Regions from separate parts of the Homo sapiens genome. Here region 1 is linked to region 2. Evidence: fine-mapped expression QTL. Tissue or cell type: whole blood. Region 2 holds a variant in brackets; the other region holds the start of a gene. All regions are shown on one strand. Distances are between the middles of the regions.

The links. PIP is the estimated chance that this variant, and not a neighbour inherited with it, causes the effect.
Region 1: it holds the start of LINC-PINT, and the variant in region 2 is fine-mapped to the expression of LINC-PINT in whole blood (TOPMed, PIP above 0.99). The same link has a PIP of 0.9 or more in lung.

What each region holds. Positions count from the first base shown.
Region 1 is chr7:131,104,617-131,114,548 of GRCh38, forward strand. LINC-PINT (long intergenic non-protein coding RNA, p53 induced transcript) reads right to left here and starts at 5,309. Exons shown (of 8, transcript NR_170176.1): 1 at 5,121-5,309; 2 at 3,104-4,187. It also overlaps a transcript of MKLN1 not described here. RefSeq lists enhancers at 36-85, 3,310-4,161, 6,556-7,097 and silencers at 3,198-3,247, 3,268-3,327, 5,385-5,434, 5,515-5,664, 6,815-6,874 and 2 more.
Region 2 is chr7:130,996,998-131,006,929 of GRCh38, forward strand. The region is part of intron 3 of LINC-PINT (long intergenic non-protein coding RNA, p53 induced transcript); the gene reads right to left. Among named protein-coding and RNA genes, the nearest start is that of LINC00513, 88 kb to the left of the region's middle. The variant G/A (reference allele first, on the strand shown) is at 5,232.

The sequences.
Region 1 (9,932 bases), 110 kb after region 2:
GAAAAGAGATGTAACGGCAAAGTTTCTCTACTCCAGACTAGTTGTTTTTTTTTTTCTCCAAAATGCTAATGGCAGAACTTCTGCTACTCTGTACTGTACCGCACCTCTGGGTACATCCAGCTGTGACCACACCACAACTGTATCGCATCCAGCAACCTAAAGTACTCTTGTGGTTGCTCATGTAAATACTTGGAAAATATCTGCCTCTTCCGGACTCTCCCCTTCACATTATAGAAATGCTCAAGTCTCAAAAACAAAACAAGAAACTTCCAGAGAACCTATTCACTTCAAATTACGGAGATCCCCTCTCTCCTTGATCCACAATAAACTTCTGGAAAAGGTCGCCTACAGGCCTTAAAGAATCACCACGATTTTCCTCCCCTATACAAGCAAAGCTTTTCAGACAAAAATCTTAACAGTAGAAATGTACCCACATAAACAAGCTGGCCCTCAGGCAAACATTACTACTATTCACACAAACATGGGGCCCTTAGGCAAAGGTACATTTTCCACGAGGCATATGTGACTGTTGAAAGTAGGGGTTTTGAACTCGACCTCCCTAGGTCCTAGTCACAGTAGTCCTCCCTGATTAACTCCGAGCTTCCACTCCTCCTCCAACTATAAAATAGGGGTAACAGTACTTCTACGAGTAGATCCATGTTTGGGGAGCCGCAGTATCTGACACAGAGACCCCACTGAGTGACAGATGAATACGTGTTAGCTATTTTAGCTATTTTTACTATTTTGTCCCTAAATAGATGTGATTTCACAAGTAGCTATTCCATCAAGCTGGTTACTTCTATAAATTCTCACTGCACCAAAATCACTTATGGGGAAGAGGGGGTTAAAAATACACTGTCCAGGCCCTATGTGGATGTGGGTCCAATTGGTCTGGGATTGGGCTGGCGTTAGAATCCTTCTTAAAGCACTCCAGTTGGTTATTACACGCAGCCGGCCTTCAGGAGCACACAGAAGTGTCTACCCGTCCACCGGGATGTACACACCACCTGTAAGGTCCGAGTTCTGAGCCGAGCAGCGCAGGCAGGTCCTCTCTCCTGGACTAGGCTCCCCGAAGCGCTGCGACGACAAACCTAGCACTGCTCGCCGAGAAGCGCCAAGCCCCTCAGCCAGCGCCGGGGCACCCGCGCGGCAGGGCTCCATCGGGGGCCACACGCCCCCTCGCGCGCCCTCCGCGGGCGCAGGCCCCTCCGGCCCGTGTCACCGCGCCCTCGCCTCCCGCGCCCCGGCCCCCTCCCGCCCACGGCACGTGACTCGACACGCGCCAGCTGCACGCGGGCTCCATCAAAACAAAAACAGAGGAGGCCGGCCGGGCGGCGGCGGGCGCGCGCGGGGGCGGCAGAGAGCGGGCGCGCCCCCGCTGCCCGGCGCCGCGACCGCGCCTCCACCGCCCCGGGCACCGCCGGCCGCGCGCCCCGGCAGGCCGGGGGCGGGAGGGCAGAGGGCACCACCCTGTTTACCGCCACGGCCCCGCCCCGCCAGCGCCCGCTCCCGGAAACGGTCTCCCGGGAGAGGGCCGGCGAGTGCGCACCCACCCGCGGCGGGGAACGCCGGCCCTGCGTGGGAGGCGCCCGGCTCCGGCGGCCCGCCGCCCCCGGCTGCTGCGTGTCACCCCCGTCACGACTCTGCTACGCACTTCGCCCCCAGCTTTCAGCTCCGGCGCTTCCGCAGACCCCTCACGTGGCTGCCGCCTCCCTGCCATGGCACTCCCCGGCGACCGGGGCTGCGGCCCCTAGCGCTGCGAGGGATCCCGAGCCTGTGCCCACCCCACCTTGGACGTCACCCTCCTCGGACCACCCAACCCACACCTTCCGCCTAGGGCGGGGCGAGGGGAGGACGGCTACGAGCTGTCAGGAGCCTCCAGCTTTCCCCGTGACGAAGCTCACCCTCGCCCTGATGTCGCCACTCACCCAGCAGCGGGCTGCGAGCTGGAGCAGACGTTAACACCGAGGGAGGACTGAAGGGAACGTCTTGATTTTTCTCCTTAATTTGCCACAGACACAGGGAAAAAAAAAAAAAAACAAAAACAGCAGACGCAGCTCTACCTTTGCGCTGGCTTTAAAGCTTTTAAGCTCCCCACGTCATCCTACCCCATGCAACAGACTTACCGAATAGCAATGCCCACCCCACACACCTGCTAGGTAACTCGCCTTCTGGAAATCGGGGGCCCCACCCACCCCGCCTTCTGGAAACCTGCGCCTGGGGTGGGGTTGAAGAGACACTGTCTGGTATCCTAAAGTCAGAGGGCGTGAGGAGACCGGCGCCCTTCGCCCCACCCAGGCGCGCTGCACCCTCCGGTCCCCGTCTCTAGAGTGCACCAAGGCATCCTGCGTCCCTGCCGGAGAAAAGAGGGACGGGGCCAGAGGCCCGAGTTCCAGGGAGTTGCTGATTCCAGTGGAGAACCGAGACACCGCGTCCTTTCTAATTAATAAGCACGCCACCCCCTACCTCCAACCCCCCCCCCCGCCCCGCCTTTATTTCTTGTTGACAGCAAAGGTGGGGGACGTGGGAGAAAGGCAAGAGTTGTCTCTAGGTTCGGGATGTTGGGCTGCGCGGAGGGAAGAGGTGGGATCTCGAAATGGAAACAGTCCCCCCTTCCTCCCCCCTCCCCTCCTCCTCCTCCTCCTCCTCTTCTTCTGTTTACCTCAAGTTTGAATTTTATCTGCGCAACATTAGCTGGAATGCGGACATTGAAAAAAAAAAAAAAACACTCTCTCAGCCCGGCAGCAGCTCCGGAGGAGCCATGTGGCATCAAGCCACAGCAAAGGGGAAAAAGTGCTCTTAGCAACACAAACATGGCGAAATCGCTCTCACAAGCCGGGTTCCCGCGACAGCCCTACCTTCCCCCGCTCGCCTTCCGAACGTCCTGGCCAGGAACCGCAGACCCCTTCCGGGGGACGGCGAGGGGGCCCCGGGCTGAGCGAGGGTGGGCGCACGGGGCGTGCTAAGGGGAAATTGACTAGCCAGCCGATCAGCTCCGCCGGCAGCGGAGGGGACGCCTTCTTCACGCCCTGAGATCGCAAAGGAGAGCAAAATTCCCATCCCAAAGTCCTGCGGGACCGGCTTCCCCACCCGACGAACTTACCCCAGGGCTGAACGCACGCTGCTTTAGCTCCTTGCCTCGTTCCTTCCTCCCGGGCGCGACGCGAGGTGAAAATGATGCGCACGTAGATTTGTAGAGCGTATTCTTGAGAATTTCCCTGGGATGAATCGGGAGGAGCGGTGGAGACTCCGGAGACAGGTGCCGCGCTGGTCTGGGCTGCCGGCTAAAAGTTGTCCTCCGCGCGGTGGGCGGTGGGGTCCCCGGCCAGGGCCAAGGACCCCGGCTCCCTGCCCCCCGGCGTCGCCCACTTGTCACGCCAGGCTGCTGCGTGCACTCGGCTGCAGGGGAGGTGGCGTAGTTTCTCTTCCTCCCACCTCTTCTCACTCACTTGTTTTTGTAGCCGTGGGCTCCCCTAATGCTTTCCTCTCCACAATGTTGTTTCATTATATCATGTCCATCATGTGACACCAGAGAGGCCTCTCTATGGAAACTTAAAGGGGCTCCCACGTGACTGCAGCAGCAACAACAGCAGCAGGACTGGCGGCGGCGGCCGCAGCGGCGTCCGTACCTCCACCCACCGGGAGCCCCTCGAAGCATCCCGGAGGGGCTTCTGGCGCTGCAGGAGCCCCGATCGGGGAGCCACAGCATCCGGGAGCCGTGGTGTCTGTGCGTGCGTGGAGCCTGTGCTCATGACATAGGAAGCCGAACAGAAGGAGCGTCCTCAAATCCTTTCCTACAGTCACCAAACCCACGCTCTGTTAAAATGACATTTCGTGGCTCCTACTTTGTTTCCCCGGAGAGCAATGAGTTTTCTATCAGGCCTGATTTAGTTTGACAAAAGTCAAAAAGAAAAACTGGATTTGTCCCTCTGCGAGTTCAGTCAGATCGCTGGGAAAACAGAAATGACAAAACAATAATAACAGAAATAGAACCAGGCATTTGATACATAATTACCATCACCACGGCTTTCAAGCTTTCTGGAATTACGTTCCTCCAGTAACTGTTGATGATGCTTGCAGGAGGCAAAATGCAATGCAGTTTTTCTCTTCCGCAGCTATATTAGGGCTTTGTTGCTGACAACAGTGAAAACTTGTTTGTGTCAGGAAGTGAGGTACGGAGATATGACCTGGAAGGTACAGACAAAACCAAAGTGGCAGTTTTTGCATTACTTTTCTGACCACATTCTTTCAAATGGTGACAAGAAGGCGGTCTGCTGTAAAATTCGTGGGGTGTTTGATGGGAAACAAAATAATCAGAAAAACATAATTATCCCTAGCCATACCATACTTGCTAGACGCTAGAAAGTATACATATATGTAATCTCTGTATACATAGAGAAAGCAAAAAGCATGTGCACTTTAATATTTTTGAACCACTAATTTTGTCATCATTTGTACCATTAACAAACACTTGGAAAGACTCACTCAAGTCCAGGGATGTGTGGAAACTCACAATGTTGAGTGCTGTGGGTATTACTGACTCACAGTCCCTTAAAGGGTTTGTACCATAAATCCCAAATTTCTGCCTTAAAGTTTTTACAGACATGGAGATTTTATCCTGTAAATCTAAGCCAGATAGCTATTTCTGGGTTTTTTAGTTCATGCTTTTCCATTTTATAAAGGAAACTGTGTGGATTGGCGGAATCAAGAAAAACTTCGCAAGAAACTGAAGAGTGGGATGGAAGATCTTTTCGTTTGGCCTTGCCTTGACTCTGTCTCTCTCCACCTCATCAGTTTACTTCATCAGCCATGATGAATGAGCTCCATTCCAACCCTTCTAATTCTATAATATCTCTCCCAAGTTTTACCTTCCTATCTCATGCCTAATTCTTTTCATCCCTTTCCTCCTACCTCCCTTGCCTCCCAACTCAGCCCCTTTTCTGCCTGGGGGCTCAGCTCGGGCCTCCCCAAAGACTGTACCCCCCACCCTCCCCTGCAGCTACCCCCACCCCCACGCCCTTCCCAGCTCGGCCTCTCTTCTTTGCAACTCTACCTCCTTACCTCTTTTGACCTCTAATCACCTTCACAGTCTGGCCCTTGACTTCTGGGCCTCTTCTTACCTCTCTTTACCTGAAATGTCCTGGCCCTCACTGGGGTCTCCTCCACACCCTTCTCTCTGGTCCCATCCCTTCTGCTGCCAAGCCCCAGCGTTCCTCCGGCTCGGCCTGGTCAGCTTGAGCCTCATTTTGTTCGCGTGCCCCTGGGCTGGGAAAGGAGTGTGTGGTGCACAGTGGGGCCAAGGATCCCCTGGGGCCGCGGCCTCTGCCTCGCCCCCTCCACCCCTCCCGAGTCCCGGTTGCGGCGCTTCCTGGGCGGATGGCTTGAAATTGCTGCAGCAGCTGCGGTTCTGCTGTGTCATGCAAGAAGGAGGCGGCGGCGGCGGCGGCGGCGGCCGGAGCTGGAGGGGGAGGAGGGGAGGAACCTGATCCTCCGGTAGCGAAGGGCTAGAGGCAAACACCGAGCTCCTCCAGAGCCGCCCGGGAGCAGGGAGGGCTCCGCTAGCCCGGGGGGCCCTCCCCGCGGGGCAGATGGTAAGTGGGGCGGTGCAGGTGGTCGCCTTGGGAAGGGAGCGCGCAGGGGGGTAAGGTGGGGCGGCGGGAAGTGCTAGAAGTCACCCCAGCCAAACTGAAGGAGCCCAGTTTCCAGCTGAGAGGGACCCAGGCCGTAATAAGGATGTCCAGCCAAACGCAGCAATAATTACTATTGGAGTGACGCCCCGAAGTTGACCCCAAGCTACACAGAGGGTGGAGTGGTGCATCCTGAACCCAGGACAGAGCTGGAGGCAATGATTCAGGGTTTGAGAAGTATCAGCCCATCGGCCTGGCGCTTTAAGGTGCAGCTGAGTAGGAAAAGCCAACCCACATCATATTCCCAGAGCCTTGCTGCGCTTTCTGGGTTGTCTTGTTCAAAACTAGTGAAAGGGATGGGAAACCTGCCCAACCTCACTTTAGCCACGAAAATAATGCTCTTGGCCAGTGGCCTTGGACAAACAGCCTCTGGTGCAACAAAACAATCAATAGGAAGAAGAACTTCATTCCCCTCACCATCCTCCTTCCCCAAGTTCCTTTGACCAGCATACCTCATTCGGCTTAAAGGAGAAAGAAAACTATGTGTGACATTCCCTCCCAGCCTACCTGCAGCCAGCCTCCTCACCACACAAACTGCCCATCCCGCTTCTCTCCTCATCTTCAGAGCCATGATTCCAAGAGACATTGCAATACTACTCACTTTAGGTGAGAAGACTGCCTGAAACTCTGAACAATTTCACCTCCCTTGCCCTTTGCCACAGGGGATTCAGAAACCTACAACTGAGAGCAGGGAAATATACGGACAGGCTTGGCACGTAGGAACATTACTTCCTTCACTGGAGTGTAGTTCTCCAGACAACTTTTTAATTATGATTATTCCCTTCCATTGCACTCCTGGAAATTTCAAAGCACTTTCTAAAACATCATTTTTTTTATGTCAGTCATACATTTAGAGGTAAGGGGTTGATGGGATTAACTGAAAGGCTAATGACTGTCTCAAAAGCACATGCTGTTGCTAGGGAACCCAAGCTCCTGCTGCTCTCTAATCACCAGCGTGTTCCGTGGAAATCAAACTGCTCAGGGTGTTATTAAAATGAATGGCATCGGGTTAAAGGCATTCTTGCTTATGTTGTAGCATCCTGGATTATTATCGATTGCCTCACACCCACATATCTTGTTTTCCTAATTTGATTTCTGTATTTGCGTCACTGCCAGGGACACTCAGACTAGACCAGTCAGTTCACTTCCTGTTTCTCAGAACTGGTTTATATTTGGTCTCGTAGCACTAGCTGGTAAAACATTATCAAACTGATCCTCTTGGAAAGAAATCTTTGCTTCCCATTGAAAACAAAATATTCCAATTAAATTGTAATTCCTGTGGAAAACGTCATCATTTGAGGAGTAGACTGCCAGTTGCCATTTGAGAAACAATCCTTGAAATGTAAAGCCTAGAAAAAAAAAACATCATCTTGATTTCTTTTACCCAGAATCTTCATTCCTCAGCACTAGAACTAAGACAAACTCGAGTAAAGAGTAGATTTAAGTATACTTCTAAAATGAAACGCATAAATAAATAAATAAATAAATAAATAAATACATGTCGAAGCTGGGGAAATCATTTAGACTAAACAAGGCATAAAATTGAATGGAATCCAGGCCCAGGAAGGACAAGTAATTTTGGGTTAGCATTGTGGCATTCGGAGAACACAGTGTGACTACAAGGCTACACTACAAATAGGAAACCCCATCACTTTGTGTACTAATTGTCTTTTTTACCAATTCCTCTATGTCCCTGGACAAGACAACCTTGTTTTGTTTTGTTTGTTTTCAGTTCCTTCCTCTTTATAACAAGGATATTGCAAAGGCAATATCAGAAAGATAAGCCCTATGTAAATAGGTGGATTCTGATGTAGATAATTTGTTTAGATGGAAAATGAAGCCCTTTGAAAAAGATGTATAATGGCATCGATAGCCTGGATGACCTTGAGTGAGCCATTGTAGGTCTTATGTCAGTTTCTTCGTGGAAGCTTAAATGAAAGTGCTGGACTAAAGGATTTCTAAGGTTCCTCCCATTTACAAACTTCTGTGATGAGATTGAACTCACTACATAAAAATTTCAATTTTAGCTGGATTTTGCAATGTTAAATTTAAGCACTGAACCTTTAATATCTATCCATAGGAACCTTGAGGGAAATGATGGGAAATGACTTTCTATTGATGTATCCATTTTTAGTGTCTGTTGACAGAAAAATAAAATTTACCTTGCTCCCCATGTACTTAGTCTCTCCCTGCCTCAGTGGTATTATGGAAGCAACAGGATAAGAGTTACAAAAGGATATAAAAGTATAGAGAAAGTTCTTTCAGTCTACTCACTTATTTATTATGACAACGTGTCACTGTGTTACCCAGGCTGGCCTCCAACTCCTGGGCTCAAGCAAGCCTCCCACCTCAGCTTCCTGAGTAGCTGGGGCTACAGGTGCACTCAACCATGCCTAGCCTTTCAGTCATTTTAGATATAGGTAATCCTAAGTACTCTGATGATCAAAGTGGTGGAATGATGGAGGAAGGGGTGTACAAAAAAATAATCAACTGAATCCTCATGGAACTAATAATAATCTATTTGCCTGTGTTTTAATTAGTGCTAGGCAAAAATAGACCTAGCTCAGCTCTTGGAATTTTTCAAATTCACAGTATTGAGAAGTAGCATGAAGAAATGTGAGATTTGTGCCAGAGAGAAAAGACCTGACTTTGAAACCCAACTCTGCCACTTTATTCATTATTGAGTGCTTGCTGTGTGTCAGGTACTGTGCTGGGTGCTGGGAATACAAAGATGAATAAGACACAGTTTCTGCTCTGAAGGACATTATAGTATCATGAGAACAAAGATGAATATACAGTTGATCACGCAACAGTGAGATGATATCAACAGGGGAGCTCATAAGAATGGTGCCTAACCCTGACCACGCATAGGGTCTCTAACCACACAAGGTGAATCTTGAGATGCGTTCTGAAGGATAAGTAGAAGTAAGCCAGACAAGTGGGCAGGTTACAGGGAAAGATATTCCAAGCAAAGAAAGTACTATGTGTAAAGACCTTAGGGAAAAAGCTGTGTGCAGGGAGTTGAGGGTGAAGAACAGAGCCTGGCAAGTAGGTTCTAAATAAATACATTGTATAAATGCATGGCAGAAGTCCTGGAGGAGAAATCCAGAAAGATTAGCATGGTTGAGTATGTTATCCTAAAAAGTTTGAACTTATTCTAAGGCCAGTGGAGAACCACTGATGAATTTTAAGGGGCATAGTGAACTGATCAAATGTTCATTTTAGAAAGATCTCTCAGCTGGGTGCAGTGGCACACTACTGTAATCCCAGCAGTTTGGGAGGTTGAGGTGGGCAGATTGCTTGAGCTCAAGAGTTTGAGACCAGCCTGGGCAACATGGTGAAACCCCTGTCTCTACAAAAATACAAAAAAAAAAAAAAAAAAAATTAGCCAGGCCTGGTGGCACACACCTGTAGTCCCAGCTCCTCAGGAGGATCACTTGAACCACAGAAGCGGAGGTTGCAATGAGCAGAGATCATGCCACTGTGCTCCGGCCTGGGGAAACCTACAATCATGGTGGAAGGCGAAGGGGAAGCAGCCACCTTCACAAGGCAGCAGGAGAGAGAGAGCTTGCGGGGGAAACTGACACTTTTAAAACCGTCAGATCTCATGAGAACTCCCTCACTATCGTGAGAACAGCATGGAGGGAACTGCCCCCATGATCCAGTCACCTCCCACCAGGTCCCTCCCTCAGCACGTGGGGCTAACAGTTTGAGATGGGACACAGAGCCAAACCATATCACATTATAAGAAAGAAATAATGATGCATGTCTAAACTAAGGTAGCAAGAATGGACATGGAGAGAGGAAGCATTGAAAGGGTTTAAGATATATTAAGGACATAGAACCAACAGAATTTGATTATTGATGGTATCCTCCATCAATGCTATCCTTCCATTTTCATAAGCCATAAATCTGCTCCCATTATATCCTGCAGATATATCCTGAGGTCCAAGATAGGGACCTCAGGAGGAAAAGCAGGTTGTGGAGTGAAGGTAATTAGTTTAGTTTTCAACATGTTGAGTTGAAGTGTCCATAGAATATCAAAGTGAAGCTGTCTACTACATAATTGAACAGGGAAGTCTAGAACTCAGGAGAGAGATCTATGCTGGAGTCATCAGAATAAGGAATAGTTCATGGAAGTAGATGAAATCCCCAAGAGAAGGCATAGAGAAAGGAAAGAAGAGGATCTACTTTGGAACCCTATGAAAACCCTGATATTTAAAAAGTGAGGAAAGAAAAAATACA
Region 2 (9,932 bases):
CCCTAGCGTGGGCTTCGATTAAATGCCAGGCAAGGCTCAGGGCCATCTGTACGGCCTTGCTTTCATGGCACCATAAAGTCCTTTGTGATAATATCCCACTTGAGAGAGAGTAAATATTTATTCTAAGAATTAGATGTTTCCTGTATGACTAGATTTATGATAAGGAATGTGAGCAACTGTTTCCTAAGTTCAGTTACAGGGTTTCTCTTACAGCTTTGAAACAAATACTCCCTACCTTCCACGAGCTGAACTAAAATGTATCCTGGGATCCTAAGGCAAGGTATTTAAACCAAACCAAAAACTCTGTTATAGTTTGCAAACAATTTTCTATAAAAACAGACTTTAAAAATATCCTGCATTTAAAGCAAAGTATACAATTTTATTAAAGAAAGAAGATGATGTGAATATAGCCATGATAAGTTAACAACACCTGACTTAAAATGTTTTCTGTCTTCGTAACAGCCTCATTGTTCTTACTGACACGGCAGTAAATAAACTTCATGAACGTAAACTTCAAAGAGTTTATCCTAGTAAGATAGCACTTTATCTGTTTTACATGGTAGAGTTTCATGTAAGATTTCAGTTAATGAAAGGATTCACTGCTTCCCAAAAGTTTGAAAACTTCTCTTAATGTTCCTCAAACATCAGTCTGTAGAATGACTGTAAGACACCTGGAGAAGATGTTTTCATACACGTGTTCCTGGACCATTTTCCTCAGTAATTTCCTTGTAATAGGTACAAAGGTAAGAATCTAAACTTAGGCAAAAAAAAAAAAAAGAAAGAAAGAAAGAAAGAAAGAAAGAAAGAAAAGAAACCACTAATCTAATACCATATTCACAGAGTTTATTTAACTCTGTCTTAAAATTTCACTGACAATCAATAGCCAGAGCATCAGTGTGGCTTCTAGAATCTCACTTTATTTAAAATTTGGACAAAGATGATTTTTCTTGCATTCGGCCCCTATTCTGCATGATTTCTCAAAGTCAGCATCAGGGTTTTTCAATATTTGCATGCTCCTTCAGCACACCCGAGAGTTTGAGAAAAATTATATATATATATTTGAGATGGAGTCTCGCTCTGTTGCCAGGCTGGAGAGCAGTGGTGCGATCTTGGCTCACTGCAACCTCTGCCTCCCGGGTTCAAGTGATTCTCCTGCCTCAGCCTCCCAAGTAGCTGGGACTACAGGTGTGCACCGCCACGCCTGGCTAATTTTTGTATTTTTAGTAGAGATGGGGTTTCACCATGTTGACCAGGATGGTCTCGATCTCTTGACGACCTCATGATCTGCCGGCCTCGGCCTCCCAAAGTGCTGGGATTACAGGTGTGAGCCACCGCGCCCAGCTGAGAACCATTAATATTTTTTAAATTTAATTTAAAGTTCTGGGATACACGTGCAGGACATGCAGGTTGGTTACACAGGTAAACGTGTGCCATGGTGATTTGCTACACCTATCAACCCATCACCTAGATATTGAGCCCCACAAGCATTAGATCTTTTTCCTGATGCTCTCTCCCCCACCCCCAGAGTATGTTATTCCCCTCCCCTGTGTCCATGTGTTCTCACTGCAGAACCACTAATTTTTAACAGTAGTCACTGAATATCTCCTCCCACACTAAGCTACACTTCCCAGAGGCCTCTGCAGTTCTGAACTCTTTACAGTTTAAAAACAGTTTCCTTGCTTAAAAATATGGAAGTAAAACAGCAGTTGAGCAGAATCACGGATTTTTCAGACACAAAGATACTCTGAAATGCAACTACTCTATGCTGATTTTTTTCAGATAAGGGAAATATATTTAAGAAACAAGAAATATACGCAAGATGAAACAGGTTGTTGGCAAAGTGAGAACTCAGTAGCCAGGTTTCCATGGTTTACTAAATAAAGAGATCTAAGTTCAAATTCAGATTCTTCCACTCCCTAGCTGTAGGCTCCTGATCCAATCTTATGAGCCCCAATTTCCTTATAAACAGGAATAATACAGTATGTGTGAATATATTATTCCTGTTTATACCCATAAGGATTGTTAAGTAAATTGAATTGAAGACACTTAACTGTCTTCTACAATAGTGCCTGACTCCAAGTAGTAAGCACACAATAAATGTTGGTTGTAGTTATAAACAGATTTTTGTTGTGGTTTTAGAAAAAAAGAGGAACATTCCCCATGTATGAGGTATGTCTAACCTGAGACCTTTGTGTTTTGAAGGCAGAGACTGAAGGAATTAGGTGCTGGAGCCCAGAGCTGCAAGTGTGAAGGTTGTGGGCCTGTGGGAACACAGCTGGAAGTGACTCAATCCCTGGGGTTGGTTTCCCCAAAACTGGGAGGGGAAGGGATTAGGGTCCCATGAAGAGAAAAGCCCTGACCCACTCACACACCTGCAGGAGGCAGGATTCCAGATGAAAGTGTTGTCAGAGTGGAGACCTCAGTGAACACAGGCTTGGGGGCACTCTGCAGAAACCCCCTGCAAAGCACTAACAGAGGTTCCCTTCTGAGAGGACGCCAGGGGACTGGGCCAGGGACATGAACAGAGCAACCACAAATGGAGCGGGGTCAGGAGTCCCTCTTCCCCTCTGGTGGAGGGAGGGATCCCAACAACGAGAGTGGGTTTCCCACACACTCTGAAAAGCGGGAACCCTCATCAGATTCTATTTGATTCAGAAAAATGATTTAAATCAGGTTTAGCCTAAGGTCACGCAGCTAGTAACAGCAGAGCAAGGATTCAAAGCCAAGTCTGTCTGACTCCAAAGCCCTCACTCCTGTTGCCCATGCTGCCTCTGTGTGAGCAAACTTGTTCAAGCATGAGTTCCACCAACTATAGATCACCAGTAGTGTCTTCTCAGTATGCAGTTTTTCAATTAAAAATATTTTCTAACTAAAAAGTTTTTGGTTTTTGGAAGGACTATTTGGATGGGCTCTAAACCAAGGGGTTGTATTTACAATGGCTTCCCTCTATTAAAGTTAGGAGAAAAGACTCTACAGTGAAGATTCTGTATTTTTTAAAATGCAGTGGTAAATAAAATTTATAGTAGTCCAGTGGTTTGGACTGAGCTCCTGCACTAGGCCCCAGAGACCAAACCAAAATGGAGTCGCTCAGGCTGAAATCCCAAGCCACCAAGTCAAAACTAAGTTGTTCCAAGAAATCAGGAGAGAGAGAGAGATAAGAGCCAAATCTCCAAAAAGGCCAGTTTTAGCTGGCATGATAAGGAAGTCCCCTCTGCTTTAACCTTTGTAAGGAAAACAACTTCGAAATGATGAATAACTTTTTGTTCACTGTTTTCTTCAGCCCTTTTCTGCCTATAAAACCAACCTCCTCTGCTCGGCTCATCGTAACACCCACTGTATTTTATAGAATGAGGTGTTGCTGTACTTTAGAACAGCAAATAAAAGCCAATTAGATCTTTAAGCTAATTTTATGGCATTTTGTTTTTTGACAGCGGGTCAGTCTTCAATACCTCCAGAGATATGTTTAAACCAGATACAAGAAACAAATTTCTAAAGAAATGAATCCACCTGAGTGAAAGAAGGACGGTCATACTTCTAGGTGTCCTCGTTCAGATGAAGTACTGGCAGTAAGTCAGGCAACCAGCCAGTTACGCTGGTGAACAATGCTGGCCCTCCACATACCTCGGTTTTTAGTGGACAATCTGATAGAAGCAAGAGTCCTGTTATATCCAGATAGGGGGGGCCTTGACAAAGAATCGCTGAGGGACTAATTTATTTGATGTAAGCCAAATAACTTTTTCATTTTCAAATTACAGCTATTAACAAATGTCAGATTTATACAAATGAACTTAATGCCACATCCCCCCAAAAATGGTTTTAAATTAAGATATATTTTCTAGTTTTGAGATGAATGACTTGAGCATGTGTGAAAAGATCCTAAAAGGATTCCTTCTTGTACTGCTAGAGGTGAATGCCAAAAGTGAAAGGCCACAACATCCCAATGGGTGACGGGATTCTTGTGGGCTTCTTGCCTAGGACAAAGACTTCAGCAGGGTTACCTATACTAAAGACTTGCTGGTAAGCGAACAGCACTCCCACTGTGTAGGAGCTTCTGGGAAATGCAGAGCCTCAGGGCTCCATCCCAGAGCCACTAAATCAGAATCTTTTAACAAGATGCCCCAGGGTTCTCCATGCAGGGTAAAGTTTGAGAAGCACTGCACTTCAGTACCTTAAGTAAATGCAGATGCACTGTGTTTAAGTGTGATCAGTCTTCTGTTCTGTGATTTCAATCATCTATCAGAGCTTTCTTATAAACTAAATGTTCCTTAAATATTTCCAAGGAAGAGACCGGCTATTACTCTCCCTGGAAAAATGAGCTGATGTTCATCAATCTATAAAACACTGACTCCACATAAGCTGTGTCACAGGCAATAATTTCCTTGATATATACTAGTACCATCAATGCTTTATTTTTATTTTTTTGTTTCTGATTGTCCCCAAATGACAGAAACTCTTAGAATTTAAAAAAAAAATCCTAAACTTAAAAAAAAAAAATTAAAAATTCTATTTCACCTTTTACCACCGTTTCTCCTTTTATATCAAGTAATCAATGGTGGGTTAATGACTTCTTAAATATATTAATAAGGAGTTGTAGATGAATAAAATCTATAAAACAGAAACATACTTTGATAACAAAATCGTATCTTCCAATCACCTCAAGCTTCTTGCAATTTTTCTATGTCTAAATCAGATTTCTAAACCAGACCCTCCTTAGAACAAGAGACAAACTTTATTTTCTCTAGTCTCAGATTCCCAGGGTGGCTGTAAGTAAAGGGGAAGAATACTTAGAGTTTACTACTTAGATAAAACTTACAGATATTTTCAAAAAATAGAATACCTTCTCCAACCACAAAAGTTTAAAAAGTCTCAATTACAGGAAAATTCTGTACTTTCAAATTCCAAACAAATTTTAAGTTATGTTTAGGTGTGTATGAACTGGGGACACCAAAGGAGGACAACTGGATTATCTAAATAAATAAATATTACCACAAACAATAAAGGGAGTACTTGAGTGCACATTTACTTTAAAAAGTAGCTTTATCGGCCACGTGCAGTGGCTCACACCTGTAATGCCAGCACTTTGGGAGGCCGTGGTGGGCAGATCCCCTGAGGTCAGGAGTTTGAGACCAGCCTGGCCAACATAATGTAACCCCATCTCTACTAAAAACACAAAAATTAGCCAGGTGTGGTGGTGCGCACCTGTAGTCCCAGCTACTCAGGAGGCTGAGGCA[G/A]AAGAATCACTTGAACCCAGGAGGCAGAGGTTGCAGTGAGCCGAGATCGCACCATTGTACTCCAGCCTGGGTGACAGGGTAAGACTCTGTCTCTAAAAAAAAAAAAAAAAAAAAAAAGTAGCTTTATCAAAGTGAAGACTTGTGAACTATACTACATTGAAAACAAGTATCCCATTCAATAAAAATATTAATGAGTCACTCCTATATGGTAATGTGGCATATTATCTTGGTGTCCCCAAGGAATCATGCCTACTGGTGATCACACCCATGGTCGTGCCCTCCCACACCAACTCTGGACTGGACCAGTGGGACATTAGAAAGCATGATGCAAGCAGAAGCTTCATGAATGCTTGCATACTAGGTGAGACACGTCCAATAAAAGTATCTCTCAGAATATCTAGTGATATTCAGCTGCCCTATTAAAAAGACTAAGCAAGCCATGTAGATAGAGAGGTCAAAACCTCTCCACTATCCCCATTAAGGTGTTGGACATGTGAACTGTCTTGGATATTTCAGCCCCAGTCACTATCTTACTGTAACCACTCTAGATAATCAGAGAGACCAGCAGAAGAACCATCCACCTGAGCCCTAGCCAACTCACAGACTAATGAGCAAATAAAATGATAGTTGTATGAATGTGGTAAGTTTTAGGGTGGTGTGTTATATAGTAATAGACAATCCAAACAACTAGGAAACGGTATCTGCCTTAGAATGCAAGAGACTTCAAATAAGTCTAGGTTTATTTAGATTTTTAAATTCTTTTGTAGATTTTTTTTTCTACTTTCTGTTTATGACCTACAAAAGATAAGCTCATACTTAAGAGAACATTAAATGGTCTAAGGAGGGAGTCATTATAATCTACTTGAAATAATGCTGCATTTTACATTAGTACAGCATTTTCTATCTATTATGGCTTATCAAATGCACACTAACTTCTAAGGCAGAGATTCTTAATTTGGGGGGAGCAGGGGAGAATTCCCTCTGAGAATCCAAAAAAAAAAAAAAAAGATAATGGTCCCAGAAACACATAACTACATATTTTTTTAAATTTATTTTTATTTTTTGTTTTTTTTAAGAGATAGGGTCTGGCTATGTTGTCCAGGCTCATCTTGAACTCTTGGGCTCAAGCAATACTCCCACTTCAGCCTCCCAAGTAGCTGGGACTATAGATGTGCACCACCATTCTTAGCTTTATACATGTAGTTTTAAGGAAGACCATCTATGAACGCCAGGTTAAGAATCTATGTTTTCTAGGGAAACAGGTCTTACTAGCCTAGTAACACTGATAAGTAAACAGAATTCTCTGGAAAATGACCTACCTAAGCTTATACAGCTAGTAATTGATAGGACCAGCAATCTAGTCTGTCAGAGGATATACCACTAAACTCTTCTTTCTAACTTTAGTTTACAGTCAAAATGGGATTGCTGAACCTGGGAAAAAAATAAATGCTTCCCAATTTCCTATTTAAACAGTGTAAGAATTGGGGGTGGCATTTGAAGGTGGGAGAAGAAGGGCAAACTTGTTAGTTTACTAGTGTGAGCGGTAGATTTTTATGCCAACTGGAATCACTGAGATTAACCTTATGGACGGACTGTAGACTGGAGATTAAAGTCCACACTTGAATTTGGACGATACAATGCGCAACAAGCACAAAACATTCCATTATTTTTTCAATGGTTTACTCATACTTGATCCTCTTATTCCCTATCTACTTCAAATTACTTAGAAAAATCTGTATATACACAATATGAGAGAGCTTCTTTATATTATTTTTAATTTTTTGTTGCTGTTGTTGAGACAGAGTCCCGCTCTGTTGCCCAGGCTGGAGTACAAAACATTGCACATATTTTTTTCAATGGTTTACTCATACTTGATGAGAGAGCTTCTATTATATTTAATTTTTTGTTGTTGTTGCTGAGACAGAGTCTCGCTCTGTTGCCCAGGCTGGAGTGCAGTGGTGTGATCTTGGCTTACTGCAACCTCCGCCTCTCAGGTTCATGCAATTCTCCTGCCTCAGCCTCCCGAGTAGCTGGGATTACAGGCGCATACCACCATGCCCAGCTAATTTTTGTATTTTTAGTAGAGATGATGTTTCACCACATTGGTCAGGATGGTCTTGAACTCCTAACCTCAAATGATCCACCCACCTCAGCCTCCCAAAGTACTAGAATTACACACATGAACTACCACACCTGGCCTATATTTGAATATTTAACAATTAAGCTGAAAAGCTTCTTGATGACATATCTTTAGAGATGATTACCAAGTTACATCTTCCCCTTTTCCATATCTGTGGGAAATATACCCAACACAGTGCTACAGACTACCAAAGCTGGAGTCCTGGTGCACTTCCTCATTTCTGACCTGACAGCTACCACACTCGGACCAAAGACAGTAGGCCATCTGAGAACCCACACAGGCACTTGGCAAGTCTATAAAATGACTTGCAGACCAGTGGGGATATCCATCTCCAATCTCAGCCTTTGACTGGAAAATTCCAATGTACAACAAGTTTTTGAAAAGATAAAAAATATATATTTTTACTATTTCTCTGTCTCTCTTGCCTCCATCTCCACTCATTCAAGCTTTACCCACTTTTCTGCTTTCTGCACAACTGCCACCTTTTGCATTAAAACTTCCCATAAACCATACCTTGCCTAGCGCAATCTCTGGGAGAAAGAAGTGAACTCCCACAGCACTCCATCTTTGCTGCTCCAACAGTGCCATCATTTTCCACCCTACACGGTTTTTTTGGCTTTGTTTTGAAGACAGGGTCTCGCTCTGTTGCCCAGGCCATAGTGCAGGGGAGTGATCTCGGCTCACTGCAGCTTTTAACTCCCGAGCTCAAGCAATCCTCCCACCTCAACTTCCCGAGTAGCTGGGACCACCAGCATGTGCCACCATGACCGGCTATTTTTTTAAAAAAATTTTTGTAGAGATGGGGTCTCACTATATTGCCCAGGCTGGTCTTGAACTCCTGGGCTCAAGCAATCCTCCCACCTCAGCCTTCCTAAGCGCTGGGATTACAGGTGTGAGTCACCACACCTCACCTCTACCTTACACAGTTTTATTTCTTCTTTAAGCAACATGAGCATAGGATTTGTGTGGTTTCATCTTTCTTCTAGTGCCTAGCATCCTGCACATACACTATGTGTGTCTGTGTGTCTGTGCATATAGCCTGGAAAAGCATGTAGACACACACCCAAATTTACCAAGCACTACTATGCCCAGGCACTATCTCTTACCTACACTGTTGCAAAAATCATCCATCTTCACAAAGTCTCCTTCAAGTAGTCATTATCATCATTCCCATTTTGCAGAATAGCAAACTGAAATTTAGAGAGGTTAATACTTGGCCAAAATCACAGAGATAGTAAATGGCAGAGCTGAGACTGAAATCCAAGCCTGACCAATTAAGAGCCAAGGCACTTAATAATAAATTTAATACCCATTCGATATGTCATTTAGTGAACAGCATTTCTACACAAGGTACTAGAATGAGAACGTTAGGAATGAAGATAGCCCAAGGTCAACAACTATAATATAACTATACGACAAAGGAGAAAGAGCAAAGTCCAAGAAAAGAGTGCATAACTATTCACAATAGCAAAGACTTGGAACCAACCCAAATGTCCAACAATGATAGACTGGATTAAGAAAATGTGGCACATATACACCATGGAATACTATGCAGCCATAAAAAATGATGAGTTCATGTCCTTTGTAGGGACATGGATGAAATTGGAAATCATCATTCTCAGTAAACTATCGCAAGAACAAAAAACCAAACACCGCATATTTTCACTCATGGGTGGGAATTGAACAATGAGAACATATGGACACAGGAAGGGGAACATCACACTCTGGGGACTGTTGTGGGGTGGGGGGAGGGGAGGGATAGCATTGGGAGATATACCTAATGCTAGATGATGAGTTAGTGGGTGCAGCGCACCAGCATGGCACATGTACATATGTAACTAACCTGCACATTGTGCACATGTACCCTAAACCTTAAAGTATAATAATAAAAAAAAAAAAAAAAGAAAAGACTGCATAAATGCTAAGGATGCTCACAGGAGTATGAGATCACTTTTTGGGGGAATGGAGGTAGAGAGGGGTAGGAGTAAAGATAATCATGAAGAAGATGGCACTGAGTTGCAGCTTGGATTTGAACAAGCAGAAATGAGAGGTAACAATATGTTAAAGATTAAACTGGGCTCACCTTAGTATTCTTCCTAAAGCAGCAAAGTGGGCTAATATATTACGTTCAGTTATATTATCCTTGATAGCAAAGACAATTTCATATACTTGTTTTTATGCAACATTCACATTCTGGAAACATCCAGTAAATATTTACTGATCGAGAAAGGAGGAGAAAAGGGGGCAAGGTGGGTGAATAAGAAATATTAAATATTTCTTTGAATACTTAATTAGTTCAAACACACAGTTTGTTCCACATGCAGTCTGGTTTTACAATATATGTGAATTAAATCCTTCTAGTCACTAACAATCTTTCACTAAGTTGTATGTATTCTCTGCCCATAATACTGGAAGAATCTAGGTGAAAAAAAAATTGCCCAGTTTTTTCTCTGCCCAATTTTAAATCTTCATGTGTCCAGCGATGTCTGCATTCAAAGTGATTAGGCCAAATCACTGTCTTACCAGTTTTACTCCCAAAACTAAGTACAAATCCATTTTAA